Linked DNA regions of Homo sapiens: region 2 is linked to region 1. Evidence: fine-mapped expression QTL. A gene starts in region 1. The other region holds a variant in brackets. All regions are shown on one strand. Distances are between the middles of the regions.

Region 1 (15,659 bases):
CCTAACTTTTCCCTCAGTAAATATGTAATGAATTTCAGATGGTTCTCAACTTTCCAAAACCCAAAAAGTTCATCTGTGAAGGCCTAACTTTTACTTTAAGTATATATAAAATGCAAACACATACAATTGAATATAAAATAAAAAGAACGGTTTTAAAGTAGCATGTAAAAAATCCATTTTATTGATTTATAATCATATTACCTTCTTCATAAATAAAGATCCATAAAGATGGATCCAAGATGGCATGCATCTGCAAGGGATGGAATTCCACAGATAAAACCAGAGCAAAAAGGTCCAAAAGGAAGGACTGAATGAAGACACAGCCTCATTAGCACAAAGAAATTCAACTCAACTCATTACATGTCGATTACCAATACCTATCTTTAGAGAGACAGTAAAATATAAACTAATTTACGTTAGTAAAATTGAACCAAATATATTTCTCATCTTTTTTTTTAAGACAAGAGTCTTGCCCTGTTGCCCAGGCTGGAGTGCAGTGGTGTGATCTCAACTCACTGCAACCTCTGCCTCCCAGGTTCAAGCCATTCTCCTGCCTCAGCCTCTGAGTAGCTGGCACTACAGGCATGCACCACCACACCCGGCTAATTTTTGTATTTTTAGTAGAGATGTGGTTTCACCATGTTGGCCAGGCTGGTCTCAAACTCCTGACCTCGAGTGATCCACCCACCTCAGCCTCCCAAAGTGCTGGGATTACAGGCGTGAGCCAGCGCACCCAGCCCCTAATCATTTAAAATGCTCTAGGCTTGCTAATTCTTACTGTATCTAGTTTCTGGACCAGCATTTGCTCCAAATCCAACGCAGGAACTAAGTAACAACAGCACTTGCATCCTGATGACAGTCTTAGCTACATCTACCTGAGGCAAGAAACTAGAAAAACAGGATATATTGTGGGCTAAGATCAAAAGAACTGTTACAGAGGGCCTAGAAATATCTCATTCTACATTTGGCTACACTTTCCTACCTCTTCTTTTGCAGGATTACCTGACTTTAGCCTAACGCTAAACTATGACCTATTTCTAAGAGTATCTTTCTCTATACTGAAATTTCTGAATATTATGTATATATATGTAATATATAAATCAACAAAATTCACAGATTTTTAAGATTCTAAATTTAAATAGATACAGGTACACTGTACTATGGAATAACCTTTCCTTTTCTTGTATTCAAATAAGAAAACTTCAGTTGTCCCAAATATAGATAGAAACTAAAAACAGTTAATTTAATAGTGATAGAGGAATATTCATAGAGACTAACATTGCAGACTAGGATTTATACTACAAAGATTTTTTAAAAAAACATACAGTGTTTGAAATTAATGTATCTGACTGCCTTTCTCTAATGCTCCCGCTTCACCTGCAGCACATCAGACAAGGTAGTAATTTATGATAATCATATGAAAATATACAATTAATATTCACCACCTCTCATTCCTCATCACTTCAGACGATCAGTAATGCAGAGTGAAAATGCTGTCAGATTTCTAATTGCTTTGTAATGGGCTTGAAACAGGGAAATCATTAAAGGCAAACAATCTGTCATTTGTCTGTTACTTTAACTATCTATCACACCAAAAAACTCATTAAAGAAATTGCTAATGAGCTACAAAAGACTAGAGTCATGGTGCTTCTACAGTAGATTAAAAAGTAATACTATGAATTGCTGAAAGTATTTTAAAAATATGATATTTTGTGGAAATTCATCAGAAAACATCTATTCTTCAGTATATTTTTTAAGATGTGTGGTTTCATTATTTTGGCATTTAATCCATCATTGCAGAAATCCCTTTAGCATACAAGACCTGTTTTTCTCAGTCTCTAACTAATTAAACTGAAAGGTTGCAAGAAGCTGAAATGCTAAATGTGTTTATTACTAGTAAACTGACATAAGTAATAAAAAACAGACTATAGTAACCCTGATGCTAAATGAAGAATGTATTTTAAAATCTGATTTTTACTTTCATATCTCTTGTGGATTTAAACTGTTGAAGTTGTAATGCTTAATCATCTTAAATAATGCTACCATCATACAAAAATTATATTCAATGACTGAATTTGAGCATAGTAATATTAAACTGTGTGTAATTATATATTAACTATTTTGAAATATTTGAAAATATTAACCAACACTAACATGTCTCATAATTTTACTTCATGTAATTTTAGGGGAGGAAATAAATCATTTCTTTAAGTGAGCACACAACATTTTATATGTCTTTATGAATTCTACTCTTCCATATGAGATACTTAGCATTTAAAAACCTATAATAATGACACTAATCTTATTTTAAAACAAGAGTTATTGCCTTATATTTTAGAAAAATATGCAAGTAACAAAGATAACAATGATACTAATTATGTTTTCCATTGCTAATGATGAATTAAGTCATGAATTTAATTTCCTATTACAAAAGATGAGGCTCATTAATAAAGTCAAACTTCTATGTATGTTGACCCATTCATACCTATTAGAATTCACACAAATTAAAAAACCTGAATGCAATAACATGTTTAGCCAGGTGCCATAGTTAATATACACTAGTGAATTCCACACTTAACTTCAAAAGGTTCCATAACACCCTGGAAACATCTTCATTATACTCTCTAATTGACTTAAACAGACTTCAAATCAACTGTTTAACACATTTTAACCCACAAATTAACACCCCTTGATCATTCAGATTAACCTTTCTTCTGTAAGTCAATTACATGACAAAAATAAACTTTTCGAAAAAAATTCAGGATTAAAAAACTAAAATAGAGAAAGTAGCATGCTTTAAAAAACAGTACAGCCAGTACCTGACTTAGGATGGTTTGATTAACAATTTTTTGACTTTACATGGTGTGTATTCTACTGAATACATATTCAGAAGAAGCCATACTTTGAATTTTGATCTCTTCCCAGGCTAGTGATAGTTAGTAAAATAATTTCTCATGATGCTGGGCAGTGGCAGGGAGCAGCAGCTGCCAGTGAACCATGCACTCTCTGAGGGTAAACAACCAATACTCTATGGTGTAGTGTGTGCTACATGATTTTGCCCAACTGTAGGCTAAAGAAAGTGTTCTGAGCACAATTAAAGTAGGCTATGTTAAGCTATGATGTGCAGTAGGCTAGATGTATTAAGGCACTAATAATATTTTCAACTTAAAATGGGCTTATCAGAGATAATCCCATCACATGTCAAGGAGCTTCTGTATATAAATGCATATCCCCACATGACTGGAAGAGATCACCACAAATTTCAGTGTAGTTGGAAAGTGCATAGAAAAACCAGAGTGGTGATAAGAAAAAAGAGAAAAGGGCAAACAAGTGAATGGGGGAAAAAACAAGTTGGTATTTGTATGACTATTAAAGATAAATAGAAGATGGATTACAGACAATATTTTTAATAGGCTCATGGAATGATTAAAACATTAGATGTGAAGATAGGAAAACAGGAACATAAATCTCAGATAAGATAAAGACCTATAAGAGGTCTGAAAAAAGTTAGAAAGAACTGACACATAATGCTAAAAAACAAGAAAAACACAGCAACAAGTGCGGTGCCCGCAAAAAATATTTACCTCTTCCTCTTTCTCTCCTGCTTAGTGTACTGCCTTGCACAAACTCAACGAAAGTTCATCGATGATGACTATTGTCAAAATGGCAAAGCAGATAATAGACTGAGTTAAGACAACCAACAAAGGGAAAAATGAAAACCATTTCTAAAAGATGAGCTAGGATTATTCATTAGAGCTGATTCTCAATACTATCTAAAGCTTTATGTTAATCTGTCAAAAAAAAAAAAAAGAAGAAAGGAAGTTTCTTTCATCCTAGTCATTCACCTCTCCCTTCCTTCAAAACACTATTTAAAACTTAACATTTCATACATCTTCCTGGATTAGCTTCATCTTGATTCAAGGATTTTAATCATTCAAGTAATCTATTCTACGTATTAGTATACCTGCAAGTTATTAATTAATGTCACAGCACCTGGTATTTCCTCTGGCATAGTACTTCCTACAGTTATTTCAGTTCCTTTTTAAATGTCTGTTTACCCAGATAAACTAAGCTTTTGACAGGACTACAGTCAACTTTGTTTTGTGTCTCTTGTAACTAACGGAGTGTGGGGTACATAAGAGACACTCAACAAATATTTGTCGATTGAGTCAATAGGTGAATGAAGGCTGTATATATATCATTGACTTTTAAAAATCAAATAACTAGCTAGTTTTTGGTGGTTTTTCTATCTTCCCAGTAGATTATAAGTTGCTCTAGAGACAATCATTCAATTTTGGAACATAACCATCATATCCCATGGTACTTAAATACAGCTTAGTTCACTGGTATAAAAATCCTAAAATTCAGAAATAAAAATCAAGGAAATGAAGGAATAGTTGGTGATGGAACTACCAAAAGAGCCAAGTAAATATAATCCTGAATAGGAAATAATTAGCAGAAGTACACTATATGTATACATCTATATAATATAGATATAGATTTCCATTATTATCCATCAATGAGAAGCACAATTGACTAGTATGACATCAAATTAAGAATTTGTGAATGTCTGGTAGACGTTAGTTTACGGGCAGGCGTGTACCAAAGTGATAGATTTAATAACAATGTCATTTTTTCCTATCATCATGACAAAGGATCTTAAACTCCTGATGTATCTAGCTACATCTATAGCACTTGATCAATCATCTGGGAATCAAATATTTAATATACGCCTACCTTGGTTATGTTAGATGCTGATGACGCAAACTAAAGTTTTGCCTATCCTTTTAATTTATTCTGAAGTCCAACCAAATGTACAGTTCAACAAATATTTGGGTTTGATTTTATTTTTCCAATTCAATTGTTTCTTGCTGTCATTTGCTCTCTTTGGAAATTCCTAAAATACTGTTATGAATGTCCAACATTCTAATATATCAAATGTGCAACAAATATTATTAATTAATAATAACAACAATAGCTAACCTTTACTGAATACTTATTACTTTCAGGCACAACTATCTCATTTAATTCCCACAACAAATCTATGAGGGAAATACTATTATTACTCCCATATTACAGAGGAAGAAACCAAAGCAAAGAGATGAATTAAGTTCACATAGCCGTAAGAGGAAAAGCCTGGACTAAACACATATGTTCTGACTCTAGAGTTCATGCTTTTAACCATGATACTAACATAGTTTATATTTCCACTATGTAAGTTTCACATAAAATGGATAAATTGCCTTTTAAATATAAGATACTGAGAAACAAAACTATTAGAGCTATGTATCATTAGAACTCCAGAGAATGAGGCAAGATAGCTGGTTCTTAGTTTCTCTGGAGAGGTGTTCTTGCTCTCAGAAAGCTTGCAACCCAACTGGGGAATCAGAATATATTCTAAGGAAAACAATATACTGTGATATACAAAGGACTTGCTATGAAAGTTGAGGGGCGGCAGTAAGTTCTAAGGACCAGGCCATCATAAAAGGCTTGATGGAAGAGATAGGCCTTAAAGCAGGGATTACTCTGATAGGAGGAAGAAAAGAATTAGGGTGTTATAAGTAAGGAGAAGCATTTGAACACAATTATTGATGAAATGCTGTTACCAAAACACCAGGAGTTCCATCTATGTCTTGCTGCTTACCACCCAAAAAGTCAATCACTGAGACAATGATTATTGTCAAAGAAGAAGGCTTTAATCAGATGCTGCAGCCAAGGAGATGGGACATCAGTGTCAAATTCACCTTCCTCACTGACTAAAATTAGGGGTTTATATAACAGGGAAGAAATGTTAACTACGTATGAGAAAACAGGAACTAAGGAAGGGTAAGGAAACAATAACGAAGAATGAGGGGTCTGGCATATCACTGTCTAGATGCAGTAATCTGGTGAGTTTCAGCTCTTTGATACTTGTTGAGAGGTCTGGGCATCCTTTCTTGAGGAAGGAACTGAGATAAAGATCAACAAAATGTGGCTGGGCGCAGTGGCGCATGCCTGTAATCTCAGCACTTTGGGAGGCTGAGGCAGGCAGATTGCTTGAGCTCAAGAGTTCCAGACCAGCCTGGCCAACATGGTGAAACTCCATCTCTACAAAAAAAAATACAAACATTAGCCAGGCATAGTGGCATGCACCTGTGGTCCCAACTACTTGGGAATCTGAGGTGGGCAGATGACTTGAGCCTGGGAGGTAGAGGCTGCAGTGAGCTGAGATCATGCCACTGCACTCCAGACTGGACACCAGGGCAAGACTCTGTCTCAAACAAGCAAACAAAAAGATAAAACAAATGCAAGTTTCAAGCTTTCAGAAAAGAAGTGTCCATTTCTATGTTTATTAATTTAAAAAACCCCAATAAACAAAACTAAACAAACAAACAAAACCCTGTCTATGGGACTGTTGGGTTGATTTCAGTACCATGAAAAGATCCAATTGTTTAAATGTTTAATGTATGGAGATAATAGGGGAGGTTGGAAAAGTAAGGATCATATTGAAGAGGTAACTTGAATGCTAGGTTAAGGAGTTAGGACTTTATTCTCTAGACCTGCCCTGCTGGATACAGTAGCCACTAGTCACATGTGGCTACTGAGCATTTGAAATGTGCTAGTTCAAATTGAGGTGTGTTCGGGCACAATACATACCAGCTTTTGAAGACTTAGTAGGAGAAAAGAATGTAAAGTATCGCCTTAATAATTTTTAGATTAATTAATTTTGTAGCTTGCACTTACGGCTTACATTATATTTCTATTGGAAAGTACTGCTCTATAAAATGAAAAATGAAGGAAGCTTAATGATCAGAAATTTATGTAAAAATTGTTTTAAGAAGTTTATTTTGGTATAAGCAGAGTGTAAGACAACTGTTCTCATTCAGTAAGCCAATGGCAAGTAAAGAAAAAAACAAGGTTCTAGTGAAGAAATGGGACTGCTATAATTTAAAAGATATTTAAGAGACAGAACAGCTAAATGGAAAGTGTACATTTTGTCTGATTCTGAGTCAAGCAAACCAACCAGAAAAAGACATTTTCAATTAACCGTGGAAATGTAAGTAAGGTCTAGATATTATGTGACAGTCCAATAATGACATTATGGAGATAAAAGAAAAAGTTGGTACATTTTAGGGATGCAAACTAAAGTATGTAGAGATGAAATGACAAAATATTTGGTATTGCTGGGGAAAAAAACTATTTCTTACTTTCCAAACCCCAATAAATAAATAAGGTAACACAATAACCTAATAAATAGTAAATCAAAATAAAATGCTTTTGCTGTAAAAAACAAAAAACCTGGAGTACCGGAGCATATCTACCTACACAAGGAAGAACCAAGCTGTGGACAGAAGGGAGTTTGAGGGCTAGAGATGTTCAAGGTGGCATCATTCTGACAGTACTGTTTAGAAAAGCATTCACCACACTACTTAATTCCATTGCTTTAGGTATTTTCATGAGGCCACACAAGAAAGTATGATGCAGCCAGGACTAAAACCAGATGCTCTTTGTATCTGCCTTTAAACATGACAAAACCCTGTGGAGAACCTAATCTATGCTTTCATCTTTAGATTTTTAAACTTGCTTGTTTCATTCAGTTATTCTTTATAGTTCATAACATCATTAAATAACTGATCATATTAGATTATTTTATTTATTCTGCTTAAGTTTATCTTGACTGCTTCTCAAACTCAGATTGGTAGAAGTTTAAAAAAGAAGGAAAGCAAAATCAAAGCAGTAACAACAAAACCATTTTAACATCTCCAAGTGAAATTTATGTCATGCTGGCCAAAAATAAGATGTAGTTTTCATCTCCAGGTACAATGCTAGGAAGAGGTGTTAATGTAAAGTAAGCAGCACAAAGAAGTAATAAAAGGAAACACAGGAATCAAGAAAGGGAGAAGAAAGAAAGGTGAGAAAAACACCACCACCACCACCACCACCACCACCAGCAACAATAACAAACCCCAACAGTGCCCATATGCAGTGCCCCCTAACTGCTTCGAAGAAGAACAGTTCATTCTGCTTTTTTCTGTAAGCTTGAAAGATAGCATAGCTGCCCTGGGAATGTGTAGACTTGCTGAGTCCTTGTTCTGCCCCTACCCAACTAGCTGTTTGGCCTTGATCCTTGATTTCTTTCCTCATCTATAAAGTGGGAATAATGGCACCTGCCTTACTTGTCTCACTGGGTTGAAATGAAAGCGAAGTGAAATAGCAAATGTGAAAGAATTTTGGAACGTTTTTATGTTGTAAGTTGGTTGCTAAGGTCTAAAAGAAATATTAATAATTACGTCGAATATCTTCTGCAGAAAAAATTAAACCGACCCCATCCCCCGCACATCTAGCCCTACCTGGCATAGGTTTTAGTTCTTTTAATTTTCGAATTAGAACATTGTAAAGGAACTGTAGGGACGAGAGTGGCATCAGGTCTCCTCATCCTTCTCACATCCTTGCCCCCGCACCCCTCTCTCACCCCAGAGTTCAAGCACCAACCGAAAAGATTGAGAGTAGCTCAGGGTACGGTAAACGGAGGAAGCTTTGAAAAAGGCGGGGAAAGCCTGGGATGGCGAGGGGGTGCTCGCTGAGGAGGAGGAGAGAAGCGACAGTCGCGGGGCCCGGAAAAGAGAGACTTAGAGCGAAGCCAAAGGCGCCTTTCTTCACAGTTTGGGAACTTACTGGTAGTAAACGCCACTCCATAGAAGCGGTGACCGGTTACCATAGAGACCGCGTCGGGGTGGGCGGAGCGTCGCTTCTGAGCTGTGCCACGGCCACATCAGCTCGGCCAGAAACGCGAACACGTCGGAACAGTGACTTCCGGCGGAAGAAGAAGCCGGTCCGGAGTTCTGGCCGACAGCAGGCGAGGAGTGGGTAGCAGCGCCTATGTGAAGTTAGGTAGGTCTGATGTCGTATAAAGCGCGGAGAGGGTGCCCGCCAATGGCTGGGTGGGTAAAGCCGACTGTGAATGGAGAAGATTCCCAAGTCCCGAGCTTGAGGAGGCCCCGGCTGTTTCGTTAAGTGTATATAGCTGTGGGAAGAGGTTGCCTGATTTCTGGGGCTCCTGGTAGGGTCTCTCTTCTGGAGCGTGGAAGACTGGGGCATCCTCGCGTAGAGAGTTTCACTCTGTCTTTGCGAGGTCTCAGCGCCTCTCCAATAACAGGGGACTCTTGTTCTCTACCAGCTGGTGCTGACGTTATTTCCCATATCATGCTCTCCAGACAATCTGGAGGAAAAGCAAACGAGAAACTTTCAGAAGGAATGCCCCCAAATTTATTTTAATTCTTTGATGTTCTGTTTTGCTTTTTTTTTATTCGTTCATTTTGTAAATATTCATTAAGCTCCTCCAGCGTGTTTAGTGGGTGCTTACTTGTGTGCCAGTTTTATCATAAGACTAGCAGAAATACCTTCTTAGAGGTTCATACACCACCTGGTTCATTATAAAATTCTTTTTTTTAATGCTGTTCATTAATTAAAGTATAAATATATATCGTGAAATACCTAACACGTTTTCCATACTTGTCGGTACACTTATACCTGGAATTCTTGGGGCATTTTAAATGAAAATCTGTGCTTCCTCAGGTTTGCATTATAATCATGATTTACTCGACTAAATACTAAAGAATTTACAAGGGCAGTACTTAATTTTTTCTTAGATACATGGCAAACTGTGATGAATTGTCATTAATATTTCTATTCAGCTAATCTGAGAAGGCCCACTTCTGGTTCCATGGATGATGGCGGTTGAGCAGATGCCAAAAAAGGATTGGTACAGCATCCTGGGAGCAGACCCATCTGCAAATATATCAGACCTAAAACAAAAATATCAAAAACTCATATTAATGGTAAGTCTTTTCTTTCAGATTTTAAATCATGAGGGGAAAAAAATCAATTTTTATATGAAACCACAAATTTAGGTTTCCAGAAAATAGGATACCAGTGGCAGGAATCCAGGTATTAATTTGATTTAATTGAACATTTCAGTAATATTGCAGAAAAACTTGATTTGAGGTGGAAAAGCATGGTTAGGAGCAGGAGATCTGAGTCAGGCTGCTTGAGTTAGAATCTTGAGTCCATCTTTATCTGTGAGAATTTGGACAAGTTACTTTTTCTTATATGTGCCAAGGGAGGATTAAATGAAATAATCCATGTAAAATATTTAGAAGTGTTGTTACATAATAAACAACAGTAGCTACTAGCCACATGTGGCTGTTGATTACTTGAAGTGTGGCTAGCCTGACTTGAGATGGACTGTAAGGGTAAAATATACACTGGATTTTAAAGACAGTATTTAAAAGGAATTAAAATAATTTAACAATTTTTATGTTGATTATGTTGATTAAAGTTCACTGGTTTTATTTTTCCTCTACTGTGTCCATCTGCTGATAAACTTCTTAAAAGAATTCTTGATCTCTTACCTAATTTTCATATCTAGCATTTCTACTGGCTCCTTTTTTAAAGTTTCTATCTCTTTCTCATCTTTTTATACATACTGTCCACTGTTTCTACTATATCCTTTAATAAACTTATCACAGTTAAACTCCCTGTCTGATAATTCTTTGTAGTTAATAATCAAACAGTTTTTATGTGGATTATATATTGAAATGATGATATTTTGGATTACTGGCTATTTTGTGTTTTATATACATAATATGCATGCATGTATTTGCACATATCAAAGTTTGTTTCTCTTGCATTTTACTTTTTTAACATTGCATATGTAGCCGGCATTTATACTTACATTATATTTCTATTGGGTAATGCTGATTTAGACCATTTATACACTAATTATCAGTTGACTTTTTTTTTTTTTTTTTTTTTTTTTTGAGATGGAGTTTTACTCTTGTTGCCCAGGCTAGGGTGCAATGGTGCGATCTTGGCACACTGCAACCTCCGCCTCCCACTTTCAAAGGATTCTCCTGTCTCAGCCTCCCAAGTAGCTGGGATTAAGGCGCATGCCACCACGCCTGGCTAATTTTTATATTTTTAGTAGAGACAGGGTTTCATCATATTGGTCAGGCTGGTCTCGAACACCTGACCTCAAGTGATCCTCCCGCCTCAGCCTCCCAAAGTCCTGGTATTACAGGCATGAGCCACTGCACCCGGCCGACTCTTTTTTTTTTAAATGAATTGTAGTATTTGTAAATATATCTCTGAATTTTTATATTCATTTTTTCAATCTGTATTGTGATGCTTCTTAAGCCAATGTCTGTAATTCTATACCGACGTCCGGTTAACTCAGTTTATAAAGAGTAAAGAACCATTATTTATATAGAATTTGTTGTCTCTTTAGTTTATACCAGTTACATCAGTGTTGTTTTGCCAAAACTATTAATGTTCATTGTGAGAGACTAACTGTTTCATCATCAGGATTGTACTAATATTCTTACTTTAGGTAGTATGTTGGACTAAATGACCTTAAGGTACCTTTTGCCCCAGAAGTTTTAAAGTTTCTGTCAGCAGAATCAAGTAGACTTTATTGAAAAATATCCTAATATTAAACCATCCTTGTACCTCACTCAGTTAATTGGGAAATGAACCTGGAAAAGTAGACTGGATCATTCTGGTTCTTGTAGGCCATGCTGGCCTTTAATTGGCCACTGAGAAGCAGTCTGCACATAATATGTAGTATCTGTCAAACAGCAAAGTAGGTAAATCATTTCACATATGCGCTAACAATGTATCAGAGAATTCTGGTTGCTCTACAGCTTTGCCAATATTTGATGTTATTGGTCTCTTTCATTTTGGCTATTGGAGTTTTTGCAATTTTGCCACCATTGACATTTTGGGCAGGATAATTCTTTGTTATTTCGGCTGTCCTGTGCTTTGTAAGATGTGTGGCAGGATCCTAGATGCCAGTAACAACCAAAAATGCCGCCTGCATGTCAAAATTGCCACATCCCATGAGAATCACTGGACTACTCTACAGTGTCTGGTCATACCCCATTGTGGGGTTGTTGCTTTTTTAAAATTTATCTGATGACTAATGATGTTGAGCCCTTTTTAATGTGATAATTGGCCATTTGTATAATTTTCTTTTATGAAGTGTTTTTTTTTAAATTAAATATATTCTTGATTCTGTATATATGTTGTATATATTTTCTCCTAGTCTGTGATTTACCAGGTCATTTTCTTAATGGTGTCTTTTGATGCAGAGTTTTTTGTTTTGACAAAATATAATTTATCAAATGTGTGTTTTTATAGTTAATACTTTCCATCTTCTCTAAGGTTATGAGAATATTCTTCGATGTTTTCTTCTAGAAGTGGTCATTTGCTTTTACCTTTAGACTTATGATTTCTGTGTATAGCATGAGATGTGAGGTCATGTTTTTATTTTTCCTCAGTATATTCAGTTGTGCCAGCATCATTTGTTGAAAATTTTTTTCTCCATTGGACTGTCTTGGCAATATGAGTCTATTACTGGACTCTATTCTGTTTTATATGTTGTTTATCCTTTTACTAATACCTCCATCTTGATTACTGTAGATTTATAATCAGTCTCAAAGTCATTGTAAAGTTAGTTCTCTAATATTATCCTTCTTTTCCAGTTTATTTCGGTTATTCTAGTTTGCTTATATTTCCACAGAAATTTTAGAATCAGCTTGTAAATGTCTACCAAAAAAATCTTGCTTGAGTTTTCAACTGGGATTGCAATAATAGGTATCCACTTTGGTAGAATGGCATCTTAATAATATTGAGTCTTTGAATCTATGAACATGTATCCTTCTCCTTACTTAAGCCATCTTTCATTTCTCTCGTCAGTGTTTTATAATTTTCAGTGTAGAGGTCTCACATATCTTTTCTTGAATTTATTTCTAGGTATTTGGTTTTTGGTTCCATTATAAATGGTATTTTAAAAAATAATTCATTTTTCACTTGTTGATTGATAGTATATAAAATTATAGCTTATTTTTATATACTGGTCTCTTATCCTACAATCTAGGTAAATTTGCTTTTTAATTTTCATAGCTATTTTTGTCAATTTCTTAGAATTTTCTGCCAACACAATTATGTCATTTGCAGATAACGAGAGTTTTAATTCTGTCTTACCAATCTGTATGTCTTGTATTTCCTTTTCTTACGTTAAGGCACTAGCTGGTTGCTTCTATTAAAATGTTCAGTTGAAGTGTTAAGAGCAGGTATCCTTGCCTTGTTCCTGATTTTAAGAGGAAAACCTTCAATGTTTTACCAGTAAGTATGCTGTTAGGTGTATGTTTTTAAAGATGCCCTTTATCAGCTTGGGGAAATTCTTCCAATTAATACTTTGCTAAGAGTTTTTATGGTAAGTAGGTATTTAAATTTGTTAGATCCTTTTTTTTTTTGCATTTATTGAATTTTTGCATTTATTGATTTTTCTCATTTAATTTGTTAATGTGGTGAATCACGTAGATTTTTCTTAAGTTAAACCCACTTCTCATCCCTAGGATAAACAAACCACTTATCATGAAGCATTATTATATTTATACATTGAGGGATTCTAGTTGCTATTATTTTGTCATGGATTTTTATGTTTAATTTCATGCTGTATATTTGTCTGTAATTTTCTTTTCTCGTAATGTTTATGTCTAAATTTAGTATCATAGTTATGCTAGCCCCATAAAATGAATTGTGATTTCTGGCTTTATAGTGAGGAAGAGAGGTGGAGGGCTAACCATTTTTTTAGTCTTAACCAGTCTTTCTCTTGTTTAGTTTTGCCCCTCAACTCCACTCTCAAAGGTACTTAATGCCTTCCGTTCCTCAATTTCTCCTGCCTCTGTGTGAATGAACTCACTTCTTTGTCTCTTTCACTTTAGACTTAGGTTTCAGTTTTTGCAGGTACACTGAATTTGTTATCATTTATTGATGAATTTTCCATCTCTTCAAATTTTGGTGTCTTTTGCCTGTCTTTTCTCTCCTGTTCTTTTGCCTGTTTTTTTCTCTTCTCTCCTGTTTGTTCTTACACATTTATGCCTTTTTTTAAAAAATTATTATTCCTTTTCTGTTACTATCAAGGAATTTTCAGAGGGATGAAAGTGTGAGCCAGTTGCTGTGGTTCACACTTGTAATCTTAGCTACTTGTGAGGCTGAAGCAGGAGGATTGCTTGAGCCCAGGAGTTCAAGGCTACAGTGAGATATGATTGTGTCACTGCACGCCAGCCTGGGCGACAGAGCAAGACCCTCTCTCTAATTAATTTGCCATTTAGTGGAAGCCCTGAACTATTTTCTTTTCCCTTTAGAGGCCAGATACCCTTCTGTGGCCATATGCCTTTGCACTTGCACTCTGCCCATCCACTACCTCACCTGATTCTCACTCACTGTTTCAAAATGATCTTAGTTGTAATCGTGCCTCCCCAGCTCCCTGCCATGTCTTTAGTACATTTCATGATATTTCTCTAAGACAGGGGAGGTATAGCTGTTAGATAAGGAGAATGAGGGTAGGTGGACTGTAATAAAAGGTTGAAATTTTTTCTTCTGCTTTTCTTTTAGAAGATGAGAGAGACTTGAACATGTTTACACTGTATGGGAAGTGGCCACGGAAAAGCTTGAGATTGAAGTTATAGGAGAGTTTGAATAATTAACAAAAGCAGAGAGGAATAGGATCTGAATCATAGGTAGAAGGATTAGCTTTAGGTAAGAGATAGGAGGGACCTGTCTTCATTGTTACAGGAAGGAAGGAAGGAAGAAAAGATAGTTGCAATAGCCGGTTTATTTGTAGGTTTGGTAGCGGAAAGTTGATGAGCTCTCATTTGGTACCTTCTTTTTATTCTCTGTGAAGTAGAAGACAAAGTTATCTGTTGAGAAGGGTGAGAGATGAAGTGAAGCAGCAAATTACAGGAGAGAGAATTTCAACTAGCATTATTCTGGGAAGGCTCCTTGTAGATAGCTATGTATACTATGGGAGCAAGAAGTCTCAGCTAACAACCTGGCAGCAGGCAACAAGAGACAATACATCTGATATAATTTGGCTGTGTCCCCACCTAAATCTCATCTTGAATTGTAGCTCTCATAGTTCCCATGTGTTGTGGGAGGGACCCAGTGGGAGATAATTGAATCATGGGGTGGCGAGGAGGGGGTTCCCCCATATTGTTCTCCTCATGGTAGTGAATAAGTCTCACAAGATTTGATGATTTTATAAGGGGTTTCCCCTTTCGCTTGGCTCTTATTCTCTCTTGCCTGCTGCCATGTAAGACATGCTTTTCGCCTTCTGCCATGATTGCGAGGCCTCCCCAGCCGTGTGGAACTTTGAACCATTAAACCTGTTTTTCTTTATAAATTGCTCAGTCCCGGGTATATCTTTATCTGCAGTGTGAAAATGGATTAATACACCATCTCATAGCATTTTGCCCTTCTTTTTTCTTGGTTGATGTATCAGTGGTCCTTATATTACAGTTCAGCGCAATAATTTATAATCATAATTATGGCCATGAGTTATGTTCAGTTAATTTTGTTTAAGAAGGCTAGGAAGTATAGAGTAGTAAGTGTATAATTAGTAGCACGTGTATTGTACTTAGCAGTTTACAAATGCTTTCACATCTGGTTTTATCTTCTGTAAGATAGGCTTTGTTACCCCTATGTTTGTACTTGAGAAAATGAAGGCTTACTTACAGTTAAGTGGTTTGTCAGAAACACAGAATTAGTAAGGGTTATGATCTAGGCTTGATCATGTATCCTCTGACTCTAGATTCTCTCGCATTATATCACACTTC
Region 2 (15,659 bases), 370 kb before region 1:
CATCATCCAGAGTTAAAATAAGTCAACATGATAGAGATGGACTGTATGGCTAATTTTTATGGAGTCATCAGGAAAAACCTCTCTTATAGGGCTATATTTAAGCTGAGATTTGAATGACAAGAAAAAATGAGCCATATGAAGCTCATTTTAAGTATTTGGGGCCAGAGGAACAGCTGGTGGAAAGGCTCTAGATCAAGCTTGTCCAACCCATGGCCCATTGGCCACATGTAGCCTAGGATGCCTTTGAATGTGACCCAACACAAATTTGTAAACTTTCTTAAAACATTATAAGTTTTTTTGCATTTTTTTTTCTCATCAGCTATCAGCTATCATTAGTGTTAGTGTATTTTATGTGTGGCTCAAGACAATTCTTCTTCCTCCAGTGCAGCCCAGGGAAGCCAAAAAATTGGATGCCCCTGCTGTAGATAGAGAAAGGCTTAGTATGTTCTAGAAGCAGAAAGAAAGCTGGGAGGCTGGAGCAGTGTGGGGTGAGGGAAGCAGTTAGATACAGGAGATTAGGTCACAGAGGTGGGCAGAAGCCAGACTGTGGAGTGTTTTGCAAGCCAAGATAAGAAGTTCAGATTCTATTCTAAACATAATGAAGAGTACTAAGCAGGAGAGTGAAATTATCTGGTTTTCATTTAAAAATAATGACTCTGGCTGCTAGATGGAGAATAAATAGTAGAGAGCAAAAGTAGAAGCAGAAAGAGCAGTTAGGAACCAAATGCTGTAGAATGGATGATGGTGCCTGAGAGTACAGTTTAGTGAAAATCAAAATAAATGGACAAACTCAAGATGTAGGCATGGAAATAAATGAACAGATTCATCCATTGAACTTGGGGATAGAATAGGTATTGGGATGGGGCTAGTGAAGGAAAAAGAAAAGAGGGAAAATTCCCAGCTATTCAGCTTGAAAAAAAATGGGATGATGATGATGATAACTGGAGTAAGGAGTAAGTTTGGGAAAGGAAAATAAGCACTCTATTTGGTCACCTCTGTGACCTAATCTCCTAATCTGTATCTAACTGCTTCCCTCACCCCACTCTTCTCCAGCCTCCCAGCTTTCTTTCTGCTTCTAGAACATACTAAGCCTTTCTCTATCTACAGCAGGGGCATCCAATTTTTTGGCTCCCCTGGGCTGCATTGGAGGAAGAAGAATTGTCTTGAGCCACACATAAAATACACTAACACTAATGATAGCTGATAACTGATGAGAAAAAAAACGCAAAAAAATCTTATAATGTTTTAAGAAAGTTTACAAATTTGTGTTGGGTCACATTCAAAGGCATCGTAGGCTACATGTGGCCCATGGGCCATGGGTTGGACAAGCTTGATCTAGAGCCTTTCCACCAGCTGTTCCTCTGGCCCCAAATACTTCAAATGAGCTTCATATGGCTTCATATGGTTAGAAATTCCAGTAACACCTCCAGATGAAAGTGGCTGGCATGAAAATGGATCTATGAATCTGCAGAGGTTGAAACTGGAGCTACAGATTTGGGAATCACTGATATTTCTATGGCATTCCAATTCATGGGAGTAGATGAGATCATCCAGGAAGTGGAGAGGTAATATAGAAGTCAGAGAACACAGCCCTGGCATACGTGACATTTAGAGTTAGGACAAAATAAGAGGGGGGGCAGTAAAAGAGATTGAAAAGGAGTGTTCAGTGATGGAGAGAAATCAAGAGAAGAAAGTGTTTCACAAGTAGGAAGTAGTTAAATGAGGGGAATGCTTTGTAAGATCAAATAATATCAGAACAGAGAAACGACTTTTGTAAAGCCTGTTTACATAGTACAGAGGGAGAAGATATTTTTCAATATTTCATTTAATGTGAGTGAAACCATGTTCCAAAATCAAGATCATTTATATTCCTGAAGAACAAGACAATCCAAACAAACACAGACTGCTCTACTGACTCCCAGGTTGAATCTGAGAGCCCTATCATGGTCCTTGGGAATTTGGAAAAATAAAAACAAATCTGAGAATCTGTAGTCCTCTTTATCCTCACTCTCTAACACACAGAAATGCAACCATATTGCATCAAAATACAGACATTTAAAGTACATTTAACTAGGCTTTTTCTCTCTTCTGTGCTTTACACATTAGAAACCAGCATATTTGTGCTTTCTAAGATGGAGCACTACCAGGCAGAGTGAATTATTTCTGCTCAAATCCATTCAATAATGTATTTATAGAGTCGGAGAAAGCATCCTCTTTAAATAATATATAATATTGTGCATTCAAGATATTTCTCATACCTTTACCTAGGAAGCCATTTTTTAAAAGATGAATGCTGTGGGATGCCAAAAATAAAACCAATTTGTGGTTGTTCTTGTAAAAAGTTGAACTAGAAACCTCTCAGGCTACCAAAAGTTGCTGTGAATGACAGGAAGAGACAATCCAGGGAAGACTCGTGTCTTAATTTGGAGAGGTGAGCGGTGACTGGTCATGTGTGCAGGTGTGTGTGCATACGTGAGCCCAAAACACTTAGACTGGAAAGGTGAAGGATGGTGTATCTCTACTCGAGTCAGCCCCAAAACCTGCCAAGAAAGAAACCCTAAGATGGGAAGAAGACGCTTTTTCAAGAGACATTGTGAAAACAAAAGGCACAATCAGAGCTGCCTCAGAATCTAAGTGACAAAAGCAGCACAGAGTTGGGGTGTCAACTACAGTGGAACATATATATATATATGCAGTTGAGTTTGTGCATGCAAGGTAAAATGCATTTGGTACCTTAAGAGAGATACAAAAACATTCTTCTTATTCCTGTAAGATCTCATTTGAAGATATGCTCTCCCAGGAGCATAACCCAGAATCATCACTGTGGGGACTGAACAAAGCACGACACCTTATTGCATCTTGAGACATTTGTAGTGTTAGGGATGCACCGGAAGATGCTCCTAGGAGCAGCAAACCCATGTTGTTATGGAGGCACCCACAGGACAGGTAAGAACTTTCTTTATGAGTCGTGGGCTCTCAGCAAGGAAGCCACAGCCAAAAAATATAAGAGACAAGATGTGAAACACTGGAGACACTCAGAAATAACCAGGGAGACATAGGAAAGGTGATCTACAAGAGTGAAGGTGCTGCAGCTGTGCAGATGAAGCAATTAGGAAATGCAGCTATTTGTTAGGTGACCTTATTTTTACCTCGGGTAGTAAGGTCTGAAGACATTTAGTTTACACTAATAACAAAGCACGTGTGTTTTATAATACAATTCTATGTTTGTTTTTTTCTGATTAACTGTACTAGGCTATTTACACAGTGGAATTGTAGTTAAAGTTATTTAGTAAAGACGTGACATGAATAGACAGTTTCACTGACGCTAATCACGCAAGTGCAGTGAAGCACATTTATGTTCCAGTAAGTAACATGGGTGAGAACTTCCCATTCTTGTGACATTTTCCAGGCCAGTAGCCTTGAAATTATGCAATTCCAAAATAATTTTGGGGTGGGAAGCTTCCTGGTATCATACAGTCACATTTAAGTGAGAGTTACGAGGAAAAGCTGATGTGAGAAAGCTGTAATATTGCTGGCATAAAAATAGGTGCTGCCAGAGAGTGAGGCAACTGACAAACGGGTTTGCCAAGGGAGGGCTAAGGGACATCCCTGGTAACCATGAGGAGGCTGGCTTGAAACAGCAGGTGTTCAGCTGTAATGAGAACCCAAGACCTCAAGAGCAGACAGGAGAGAAGGCTATGAGAGCCTGCCTTAAGGAGGAGAGAGGCAGCATAGCTGGGAGTGAGTGTGACTCCAGAAATAGACTGTAATACTAGGTATACATTTATCAAAACATCAGAGTGTACACCTTAACCATATACCATAATAATAAATAAAAAGACAGAGACAAAGGGGTCCCATGCAAGGTCACCAGGCTTAGTTGGGTATTCCCAATCAGCAAAATGCCATGATTCTAATTGCCTAATTCTAAAAACTGAATTGTATTGGTGCTGAAAATTAGTAAGGCTCTTAAGTAACATAAAAGAAAACTCAGTGGCAACTGGATCGGACAGCTCAAATTGGGAAACTTTAAACTAGATGTTTATTTAGGGCATGCCATGCACCACCGACGTCACTAGGTTCTGTGGTTACTCTAAACGTAACTACACCAGGTGTACAAGCCTGCACATTTGATCTCTGCTGTCTCTTCCCTAATTTCTCTTGTCTTCTCCAGCTTGAAAAAATATATATACTTCTGGAATTATTCAGTAGGCATAACACCAAAATAAGTTTATTTATGAAAGATTTTACCAATAAACATACAAGTAAATTTTTTTAAGTAACATGGGTAGCAAATTGCATTCCTTCAGATAAACACTGGGAACATATAAGACAAAGAGAAAACAGCTTTCATAATATTTTTGGGAAAAGAATTTAAATGTACTGAAAATGAAGGATCAAAGTAAAACAAGGAGAAAGAATATCATATACTTCACCCACATATGTAATATTCATTCAACAAGCAGTGCTTGAGGCCTAGTATGTGCCATGCACTTCTGTGTTGTTGAGAAACCAAAAATGAAAATGGTACGCTCCCTGTCTTTCTAAGAGCAAATGTTACACAAATAAAGTACAATGTAAAATGCACTGTCTTAAGGTACCTTAAGAAAAACATAAATAAAATCATACTTCTTCCCATAAGGTCTCATTTGAGTGTATGTTAACTATAAATTGCTAACAAGTCATTTTAAAAGAAATGCTGTATTTTTCTCTTAACAGAAATGTATCAACATGTTAAACTACAGGTCTGAATCCTACTTTCCAAATAACAAGATCCTGAAATGGTGACCATGTAGCTGAGGGTTAACCCCTTGCAGTGAACAAATAATGACTGACAAACCAAGACAGGCTACTTAACAGGGTAAGCTCCCTGCGGCTGAATGAAAGATCTGACTTCCAAGGAGTTATTTAAACCCAGACCCAGTGAGGCAGTCCTGCCAAAGATAGATACCAACCTGACTTTTCATATTCAAGCTTTCCAGGCCAGGACTCCAAGCTAGGCTGCAGCAAGTTCTCAGAAAGAAATTGCCTTCCAAGTATTACCCCGTTATAGCTGGTGCCCCCACAACCTGGCTTTCTCCCATCACCATGGTGATTTGCTGAGTCATATCCTCAGCAGGTCTCAGAAGGTATACTGTAAAGATACATGGAGAGGCCATGATGGTACTGAGAGACACAAAGCTAAAGGAATAGTTAAATTTTCAACCACTATGTAAACTGAAGAAACAAAGTCCAAAGTCTAGACATCTGGTATAAGCTATTTGTAAGACAATGTGTAGTATTTCAGGAAAAGTTACTACTTCCTGACTGTCAATATTAGTCTTGATATTAAAAAATCTAAAATAAAAGTAGAGGAAATTTGTTTTTGTGTGTTATATTCTATGAAGAAGGTGGGTACTGAAGTCGATCCAACAAGTATATTGTACAGCTTGTGGTAAACTCAATGCACTTTGCATATTTCATAAGAGATTTGAGACCAACCAAGTTAATTTTGATTTTCAATCATAAATTAGGCTTAACTTTCCTAAATTTTAATATTTACTTAATTTAAAAAAGTAAAATGGCACTCCACATGAAAAAAAATTATATAAAAATTACTTTTCTAGCATATAGCAAATGTTGAAAACTTATGTTAAATCCTACTTCTTCAAAATACTATGTGTAATTTACTTCTAAATAACCCCTGGATCAAAGAGGAAGTGTCAAAATTTTTAAATATTCTGAAATAAAATACTTTTAATTTAAGTTAATGTAGCTTTTTATAAGCTAACTAAATGAAAGTGAAAATACAACATCAAAATTCAGAGATTGCCCGTGTTATAGCACTACTTTGAAGGAAATTAACAGCATTAAATTTTATATTACTAAAGAATAAAGATGTAAAATCTGTAATCTAAGCTTCTGCCTTAAGAAACTAGAGAAAGAGAAGCAAATTAAGCATCAAGCAAGCAAAAAGAAAGAAATAATAAAGGTTAGAGCATAGGTCAATGAAATTGAAAACCAATGAACAACAGAGAAAATCAATGAATGAAAAACTATTTCTAAAATTGATAAACCTCTAGCTAGACTGACATAGAGAAAAACAAGACAATAATAACTGATATCAGAAATGAAAAACAAGACATCACTAGATCAATCGCATACACAGTGAAAGTATAATAAGTGAATACTACCAACAACTCTATGCCCATATATATGACAAATTAAAATATAACAACTATTTGAAAGACAAGAACTACAAATCTCTTTCCAAGAAGAAATATGTAGTTTTAATAGGTGTATTCAAGACGTTACATTTGTAGTCAAAATTTTTCCAGAACAGAAAAGTACAGGCTCAAAGAAGTGTATTGTCAAGTTCTACCAAACAGTTAATAAAGAATAATACCAATGCTATATAGTTTATACCAGAACATAGAAGAGGAGAGAAAACTTCCCAACTCATTTTA[C/T]GAGCCAGCATTATCCCAATATTAAACCCAGCTAAAGCTCTATCAAGAATAGAAAACTACAGATCAATATTCCTCATGGACATAGATACAAAAAGCTTCAGCAAAATATTACCAAATTAGATCCAGCAATATAAAAAAGGAATGAAACATCATACGACCAAGTGAGATTCATTATAACAATGCAAGATTGTTCAATATTTGAAAATCAATTAATGTAACATACCATACTTACCATAGACTAAATAGGAAAATCATGTAATGATCTCAATAGATGCAGAAAAATTATCCAACAAAATTCTAAATGCATTCGTAATAAAAATTTACAGCAAACCAGGAATAGAATGAAACTTTTTTACCCATTTTTTTCTTTCCGGAGACTCACTCAGTAACCCAGTGCAGTGGCACAATCTCCACTCACTGCAACCTCTGCCTCCCAGGTTCAAGTATTTCTCATGCCTCAGCCTCCCAAGTAGTTGAAACTACAGGTACCCACGACCATGCCAGGCTAACTTTTGTATTTTTAGCAGAGATGGAGTTTCACCATGTTGCCCAGGCTGGTCTTGATCTCCTGACCTCAAGTTATATATATATATATGTATATGTATATATGCCCTTTGTAAGGGTAAAAACGTCTAGGTGGGGTGGCTCACACCTGTAATTTATCTATATATATAAATTATTTATATATTTATTATAATATATAACATATTATTATATAATATATAATATATAACATATTATTGTTATAATATATAACATATAGTATATGTTATAATATATTATATATTTATTTAATAAATATATAATATATTTGTTTATTATAATATTTATTATAATAAATATATATGTATACCCTACAGCTGACATCATACTCAATGGTGAGAGACTGAATGTTTCCCCCTAAAATCAAGAGTAAGACAAAGATTTCATTTCTTACTACTGCTATTAATCATGGTCCCAGAAATCCTTGGCAATACACTAAGGGGAGGAATAAAAAGAAGAAATGAAAGGCATACAGGCTGGGAAGAAAGAAATATAAGAGTCCTGATTCACAGACAATATGATTATCTTTAAAAAAAAGTGCAATAAAAATCCTAGAGTTAGTAAGAAGGTTTAACAAGGTTGTGAGCTACAAGATCAATGTATTTCTATATACCCGCAATGAAAGAAATAAAATTTGAAACTAAATCTCAAAACATCACATTTACATTTACACAAAATATTAAGATAAAGCACTTAGGTATAAGTCTTTTTAAAATGTGTGCAGTATCTACGTGGTAAAAACTACAAACACTGATTTAAAAATCAAAGATCTAAATAAATAAATACACCATATTCATGAACTGGAAAACTTAATATCATTAAGATATTAATGACAATTATTTCCAATTTGATCTATAGATTCAATGTAATTCCAATAAAAATCCCAGCAAACTCTTTTGTAGATTTCGACAAGCTGGTTCTAAAAGTTATATGGAGGGTCAAAAGCAATTAGAATTGCCAAGTAATTCTGAAAAAGAACAATGGTAGAAGACTCACACTACCCAATTCCAGGTCTTGCTATGGAGTTACATGATCAACGTAGTGTGGTATTAGTGCAAGGATAGAAATAAAAATCAATGGAGCAAAAGAGAGAGCCCAGAAATAGGCCCACAGAAACATAGTCAACTGACTTTTGACATAGGTAGAAAAGCAACTAATTGAGAAAGAATTGTCTTTCAGCAAATAGTGCTGAACCAAGTGGATGTCTCTATGAAGCAAAACAAAAAATAAGACAAAAACCAAAAAGAACCTTGATAAATACCTCATACCTTATACAAAAAAAGTAAACCAAAATGGATCACAGACTTAATGGCAAAATATAAAACTCTTAAAACATCTAGAAAATAATAGGAGTTTGGCCATGAGATTTTAGATACATCCCCAAAGGCACAATCAGCACGATCATCCATAAAGAAACAAAATTTAAATTAGACGTTATCAAAATTAAAAACGTTTGCTCTGTGTAAGCACTTAAGAAAATGAAAGAGAAGACACAGACTAGGAAAAAATATTTGTAAATCATGTATCTGATAAATGACTTGTCTCCACTATGTATAATGAACTCTAAAATTCAGCAATAAGAAACAACCCAATTTTAAAAAGGGCAAATGATCTGAACAGACCCATCACCGAAAGAAGATAGACAGATGGCACAAAGCACAGGAAAAGAGGTATAACATCATTAGTCATTAGTAAATTGAAAATTAAAACCATAATGAACGATCACCACACATCTATTAGAATGGCAAAGAGAAAGCAAAATGAAACAAAAACAAACCCCAAACCCTGCTGATACCAAGGGCTATAGAGGATGCAGAGCAACAGGAGCTTTCATTCATTTTTGATGAGAATATAAAATGGTACAGCCACATCAGAAACAGCTTGGTACATATTTATAAAGTCAAACACACACAATATGCTATGGTTTGGATGTTTTTGGCCCTTCAAAAATCATATTGAGACTTAATCCCCAGTGCAAGAGTATTGGGAAGTGTGACCTTTGGTAGGTGATGCAGTTATGAATGCTCTGCACTCATGAATGGAATTAGATGCTCTTATAAAAGGGCGTGACAAAGGGAGTTCATCCCTTTTGCCCTTTCTGTATTCTGCCTTGCGGGGACACAACATTCCTTCCCTATGTGGGATGCAGCACCAAGGCACAGTCTTGGAAGAAAAGAGCAGCCTTCACTTGACAACCAAACATGCTGGTGCCTTGATCTTGGACTTCCCTGCCTCTGAAGCTGTGAGAAAATAAATTTCTGTTCTTTAAGAATTACTCAGTCTCAGGTATTTTGTTAGAGCTTCACAAAATGAACTAAGACACACATGGTCCAGCAATCACACTGCTAGGTATTTTCTCACATGAACAGAAAATTTTGTTCGCATAAAAACGTACATGAACATGTATAGCAGCGTTCATCATCACCAAATATTGAAAACAACTAAGATGCCTTTCAACAGTTGAACACATAAATTTTGATATATCCATATAGTGGAATGCTATTTAACAATATAAAGGAATGAGCTGTTGCACACAGCAATATACATGAATCTTAAATGCATTAGCTATTTGAGAAAAAAAGCCAGGCCTAAAAGGCTATGTATTTTATGATTCCATTTTGAATGACATTATGTAAAAGGAAAAGCTGTAGGGACAGAAAGTGATAAGTAGTTGCCAGAGACAGGGGTAGAGGATAGAGATTGATTACAAAGGCAACATGCAAGGAAATATTTCAGGGTAATCAAACTGTTCTTTATGATACTGGAGTGGTAAATACATGACTATGCATTTGTCAAAACTCATAGAACTGTATGCTGAAGAGTGGCTTTTACTGTCTGCAAAGTAAAACAAAACAAAACAAAATCAGGATTTGGGGGAATCAAAATGAAATACAGCTTTTGACAAATCAATCTAAGTGTACAATAAATATACAACATAACCTCACTGAAGGGGTAAGGAAGAAAAGCGCTAATCTAGTAACTGGAAAACAAGTATTTTGTCTAGATATTGAAAGGCCATACCTAGATAAAAAGACAAAGACAAAAAGAATTGTATATAAGTATTGTATGCCAGCTGTTAAATTTGTTTCTCCTAGTAGTACAGTTTGGTTATTCTGACACTCTTTTTTATATTTATACTAAAATTGAACAAAAAAGGGATACAGATGATAGGAGCCTGGCTTCTCGCTATCAGAGAAAAAAGTTACAAATGACCTTACCAATAACCAAGACAGGAATGTTAGAATGAACCCATGGTGCTGGATTACAATCAAACATATCAGAATAAACTCATGTTTATTTTACCATACCATAGTGTGTATGTGTGTGTGTGTGTGTGTGTGTACACACACTAGCATCCAGACCTTGGTTTCTAAATAGCCTTCTCCCCATCTCCAATAAGGAGATTAAGACTTCTGAACAAAATAGCTGATTCTATATTGCAGCAAGGAACCACAAGATGAACTTTGATTGTGTTGTAGTGTCACAAAGTAAGAGAGAGTTTAAAAAGAAAGGGGGTGGGGGCAGGCACAGTGGCTCATGTCTGTAATGCCAGCACTTTGGAAGGTCGAGGCAGGAGGATTGCTTGACCCCAGGAGGTCGAGACCAGTCTGGGCAACATAGTGAGACCCCCACCTCTACAAAAAATAAAAAAATTAGTCCAGTGTTGCATGCAACTGTAGTCCTAGCTACTCAGGGGGCTGAGATGGGAGAATCACTTGAGCCCAGGAATTCAAAGCTGCAGTGAGCCATGATTGTGCCACTGCACTCCAGCCTGGGCAATAGAATGAAACCTGGACTCAAAATAAAATAAAAATTAAAAAGTGGGGAGGGGGGAGGAAGTATGGTGCCTGTTGAAAAGACACAGCAGGAACCAACATGAAGAAGTTTCCAATGGCTAATGCTGAAACAATCTGAGCAAAAATAAATAATGATAGTATTAAATTGTCACCCAAAGAATAAAGTAAATATCCATCAGTCCATATAAACAATAAGTTTAATAAATAAGTAAATGAGGAAGAATGAAAGAATGGATATATTTTCCTTGCAAAAGAATTCCAATTAGTAAATGTTTTAAAAATGACAGAAATAACAAATCACCATTAGAACATCATAGCTATAAATGCTACAGACAAAACGCATTAATGAATGCTAAATTAGTGGGCAGAACTTTTGGGAGAAATTGGATATTTGCTCAAACTTATGGTATCTCCCCTCAAATATTTATTAATTATTGTGATGTCCAAACTATGTCCACAAATTTTTTAATGGTCCTCCCTCTAGGAGGTAAGAGCTTAATTCCTCCCTCCCTGAGTGTGGGCTGAACTATTTGCTTCTAGCAAATAGAGTACAGAAGGAAAAAACAGTTACTTGACAGTGGAGAAATCTGGCAGACACCATCTTAACCAAGTGATCAAGGTTAACATCACCAGGAATATGTAATATTGATATCATGCACCCCCTGATATAATGCAATAAAAAGAGAATATTACTTCTGTGGTATTTTCCTCCAAAATCAATAATTTCAGTCTAATTTTATAAATTCTTTCCAAATCCCAATTCAGGAACATTCTAAAAAATATCTGGCCACTATTCAGAAGGGTCAAGGCTATGAAAAATGAGGACATTTTGGGAAACTGTCATAGATTAGAGGAGACTAACGAGACACAACTACTGAAGGCAGTGTGGTATCCTGGATTAAACCTGGGAAAAGAAAAGGTAACATCAGTGGAAAAACTGATGAAACCTTATAAGTCTTTAGTTTGGTTAATACTATTGTACCAACTCTGATTTATTAGTTCTGATAAATGTATCATGGTTATGTAAGATGTTGGTTATGTAAGATGTTAGCTTTAGAGGAAATTGAGTGAAAGAGCTGTAGGAACTCTCTATACTACCTTTACAATTCTTCTGTAAATCAAAAATTATTTCAAAATGAAAAAATAGTAAAAGCCTTATGTCGAATCTAATTTCCTTATGTATTCTACTTAAAAATTATTATGCTTTTGTTTTCCAAGAATTTTCAATAAATTTAAGATTCTTGACTATTATAAAAGTGGCAACATGTGAACGTAATGCCAGCCTGGAAATCTGAAACCTTTGGTCCAAATTCCAGCTTCACCAAAAAGCATGATCCCCAGGAACTTAGGGATTCTTTGGATTCAGTTTTCTAATCATCAAAATAAGGAGTTTGGACAATGCGACTCTTACACATCACTTCCATCTTAAAAAGGGTGGGGGGAGTGAGAAAGGGGAGAGCTTATATTTTTAAGAAAATATAAACCTCAAAATATTTTTAATGTAAAATATATACCAAAAATACAAACGTCAAATAAAATAAAATATTTGTTGGCAATCTTAGGAGCACACTGGAGACCATCTCACAGCATTGGTAAGGGAGATCAAATTGCAAAGAGAACTGAGACTTGTGACTTGACTCGTTCTCCCCTTTAAGAATGAAGTCAACTATCTCCTTTAGTCACCAACCAGAAAGAAAAGGTCGGTCAAAGCCAGTGGCTTCAGGTAAGAGGAACCATCTGTGCTGGCTGTGGAGGAGCAGTCGGGTCCATTGTCAGTTGCAAGGGAAACACCAAGGGATTACTGCAGGAAGAAGCATATTAGGGCATCTAAAAAATCATCTGGTTAAGAGTAATGAATCTTCCTTCAGACAAACATTGAATTGCTTAATTCTAACTTTTAGGTTAAATTATAAATCCATTCATTCAAGCGTCACAATGCCCTATATCAAATGAATACCAAAAATATCCAGGAAAGAATTCAGTATAATTGTCTTCAACACTGTTTGCAATCTTTATTATAATATTTAGTCTCCTCTTCTCATTTAAGCAATTATCAGGGCTGCTATGACTCCACAATACGGTCTTAGAGGAGGAGGATTCTTTGCCTTCTACTTCTTGAAAGCAAGCTTATTAAGAATGACATAGAAAGAATTGCAAGCCTTCATTTTCTAAATTTCAGAGCCCTTTTCTGTAAAGTTAAAGGGTACTATAAAATGTGTCAGGGAGCTACACATGCAGATACTCACATTCCACTTAGAAATCCTTATGGATTGCAAGTCTCTAAGTGAGTCTCTGTGAAAGGCAAATATTCAGGATGTCACTCTTCCCAAGAGAGAGGGTTTTGATTGCAGAACATGCTACATTAATGAAGCTTTGTTGGCAGCTGGTGAGTCAAGCTTCTGGGTAGCATAATGCATTGTTTTTTTTCTAATACTATGTTTAAAAAAAAAAGCATGTCCAGGACTGAGCCATGTTCCAATTACTTAGGAAGAAAACCAAGAGTATGTAAATTTTACTTTTTTGCTACTTATTTATTTTTGATATAATTTCAAACTTTCAGAAAAGTTAGAAAAAGAAAAAAAAGTCCCATATACCCTTCACCCAGATTCAATCACATATAATTATATATACATGTATATACAAATTTGTAAAGAGATAACTTGAGACTGTATATATGCTGATCCTTAGCAAATTTTCATCAGTTAGTATTAACATCCATTGATGGTTCTTGCTTGAGTCAATTATTACCATAACAGCTGTGAAATTATGATTTTTCTAACTAATTCATTCAACATCTATTAGTTGGCATTAGTTGGAATTCCACCATAAGAAAGAGCTCCTCTTGTTCATCTTTTATTTATTCAGTCATTTATTTGTGTCAGTATTGACTCATGGATTCTTATTTTGTTCAATGAACTATAATTCATTATTATCATTATTTTTTCAATGCTAAAATTGTCAAGTAAAGGCATTTTGAAAGGCTTATAAACCATATTAAGTGGATTTTCCAAAGTTATTTTGCCATGAAAGCAAATGGTCACTTTACCTTCAAAACATTTTGAGACAAAAAAAAAATAATATGTCCTTCCATTTGAACAGAAACACTAAGAAATCTTTTGCCTGCTTAGAAACTCCTGTCTAGACACATTACTCTTTCACAGGACAAAAATCTCTGTTTTGCTCCCTATCCAGGGCTGCAGTTAATTACATGAAGAGACAGATGCTGAGCAGCCTTAAGGCTTTCTCTGCCACCGCAGCGAGGCTGAGCTCCACTCAACAAGCAGGTAGTGAGTGAAGACAAATGCTGTTTGACAAGGCAGCATATACTACACACTGGCTTAGAAAACAGACAAACCACTCTGTGTTCCCAAGCAAAGACAGAGGAATATCAAGCAGATCTTTTCTGACAGAAATCATATCACAGCCGCACTTCCAGACAAAGTCTGTGTGAATGAAATGATACACTTTCTGTTTCCTATCTTCCCCTTTAAAAGAAAGTGAGTATATCAAAGGTACATTGAAGGTGACAGCTCAGTGTAAGGTGGTTAGCAAGATTTATAAGCTTGGTTTCCCTTTGGAGATATTAAAGAATCAGCAACAGTTCATCCATTTGGATGCTGCAACTACTCCTCTTGATTCTAATGAATTTCCAGTGTCCTAAATATTGCAATGTAAATATGCTATGTTCAGTGAACGTGTCAAAATAGAAAATTAAAGTCATGACTAATCTTTATTTCACAGGGGAAAACAGAAAATACTTTCCCAAAATTTACTAAACAACAATTAGCTGGAAAATTAGTTTCCCAAATGTAAACTCATGCTAGAATGTTACTTTTAGAAGCCACCTATGACTTACACATTAATAGGCACAGAATGGATATAAAAGTAAAAAATTTATCTTCAGGTAGTATAATTTGGGAGGGAAATAATGTTTTTATCCAATGCAGAAGTAATTGTGCCAATGCTTTTCTCATTAGATGTCAATGTGAATTTGAATGATTCCTATCAAAGCATAACCAAAGTATTTTAATATATTCTTTTTTAACATTTCTATATTCCACTGAGTTTGTAGAGGATACTTAAATATTATATCACAGGGACAATAAATCAAAAATTAAACTAATATGTAAGTTTTAACGTAACTGCTGTTTTTAGAAGTCAAGAAAGAGCCCTCCAATACACCCGCCTGCTGTGAGTCCAACTGTTGGATGGAAGACTAACAATGATGATTCTCGAAGGGGCAGAGCTCAGGATAAGCTTTATGTAGAGAAAATCAACAGTTTAGGGAAAGCAGCAAGAAACAGACTCTCAAATTATGCTATAATTTCTATTGCTGTAAGTAATCCTTCAGTTATTCCTCTAATTTTCTTACACACTACCTTCATTTTTACCCATACTGCTAAAGACCTGTGAATCAAAAGTCACACTGTAGATTTTTGAAAGAGAGATTCTGTTTTCTTACAGAAATTAGATTATAGTTGGGGAGCATATTTGTGACCAAACACTCTCATCAAATAAACCACATGTCACCAAAATTATATCCTAAAAATTATAAGTGCTATAAATTTCTGTAACAATGTAGAATAGTAAAATAATCTCCCAGTTTTACACAATTATTAACATGCTACATACAAGAATCCCATTCAAAAGGCCATTAAGCTGTAAACTTTATGAAGTAAACTTGACCTAAAACTAATACACTGTTATAGAAATAAACCACCAATTTCATTCATCAGTAACATCATTTTTGAGTTTAGTCCTTTTTTCACATAATTTGGATGGCCACACATATCTTTAAATATATATATATATATATAATCTAGATTTCCATATATAGATTTCCATATATTACATAGATTTTCATATATTCCCT

Direction of the effects. Alleles are on the strand shown, and positions count from the first base shown. SD is a standard deviation of normalised expression in the study named.
As copies of T replace C in region 2, the expression in hepatocyte-like cells of the gene that starts at base 8,698 in region 1 goes down (moderate effect, 0.40 SD a copy in PhLiPS).

What was found. PIP is the estimated chance that this variant, and not a neighbour inherited with it, causes the effect.
Region 2: its variant is the best candidate, but not a certain one, in a credible set for the expression of DCDC1 in hepatocyte-like cells (PhLiPS, PIP 0.55).

Annotation. Positions count from the first base shown.
Region 1 is chr11:31,361,042-31,376,700 of GRCh38, forward strand. DCDC1 (doublecortin domain containing 1) reads right to left here and starts at 8,698. Exons shown (of 39, transcript NM_001387274.1): 1 at 8,656-8,698. DNAJC24 (DnaJ heat shock protein family (Hsp40) member C24) reads left to right here and starts at 8,819. Exons shown (of 5, transcript NM_181706.5): 1 at 8,819-8,871; 2 at 9,675-9,818. The coding sequence starts at 9,708. RefSeq lists an enhancer at 8,632-9,111.
Region 2 is chr11:30,987,504-31,003,162 of GRCh38, forward strand. All of the region lies in intron 20 of DCDC1 (doublecortin domain containing 1), which reads right to left. Among named protein-coding and RNA genes, the nearest start is that of LINC02859, 260 kb to the left of the region's middle. The variant C/T (reference allele first, on the strand shown) is at 6,447.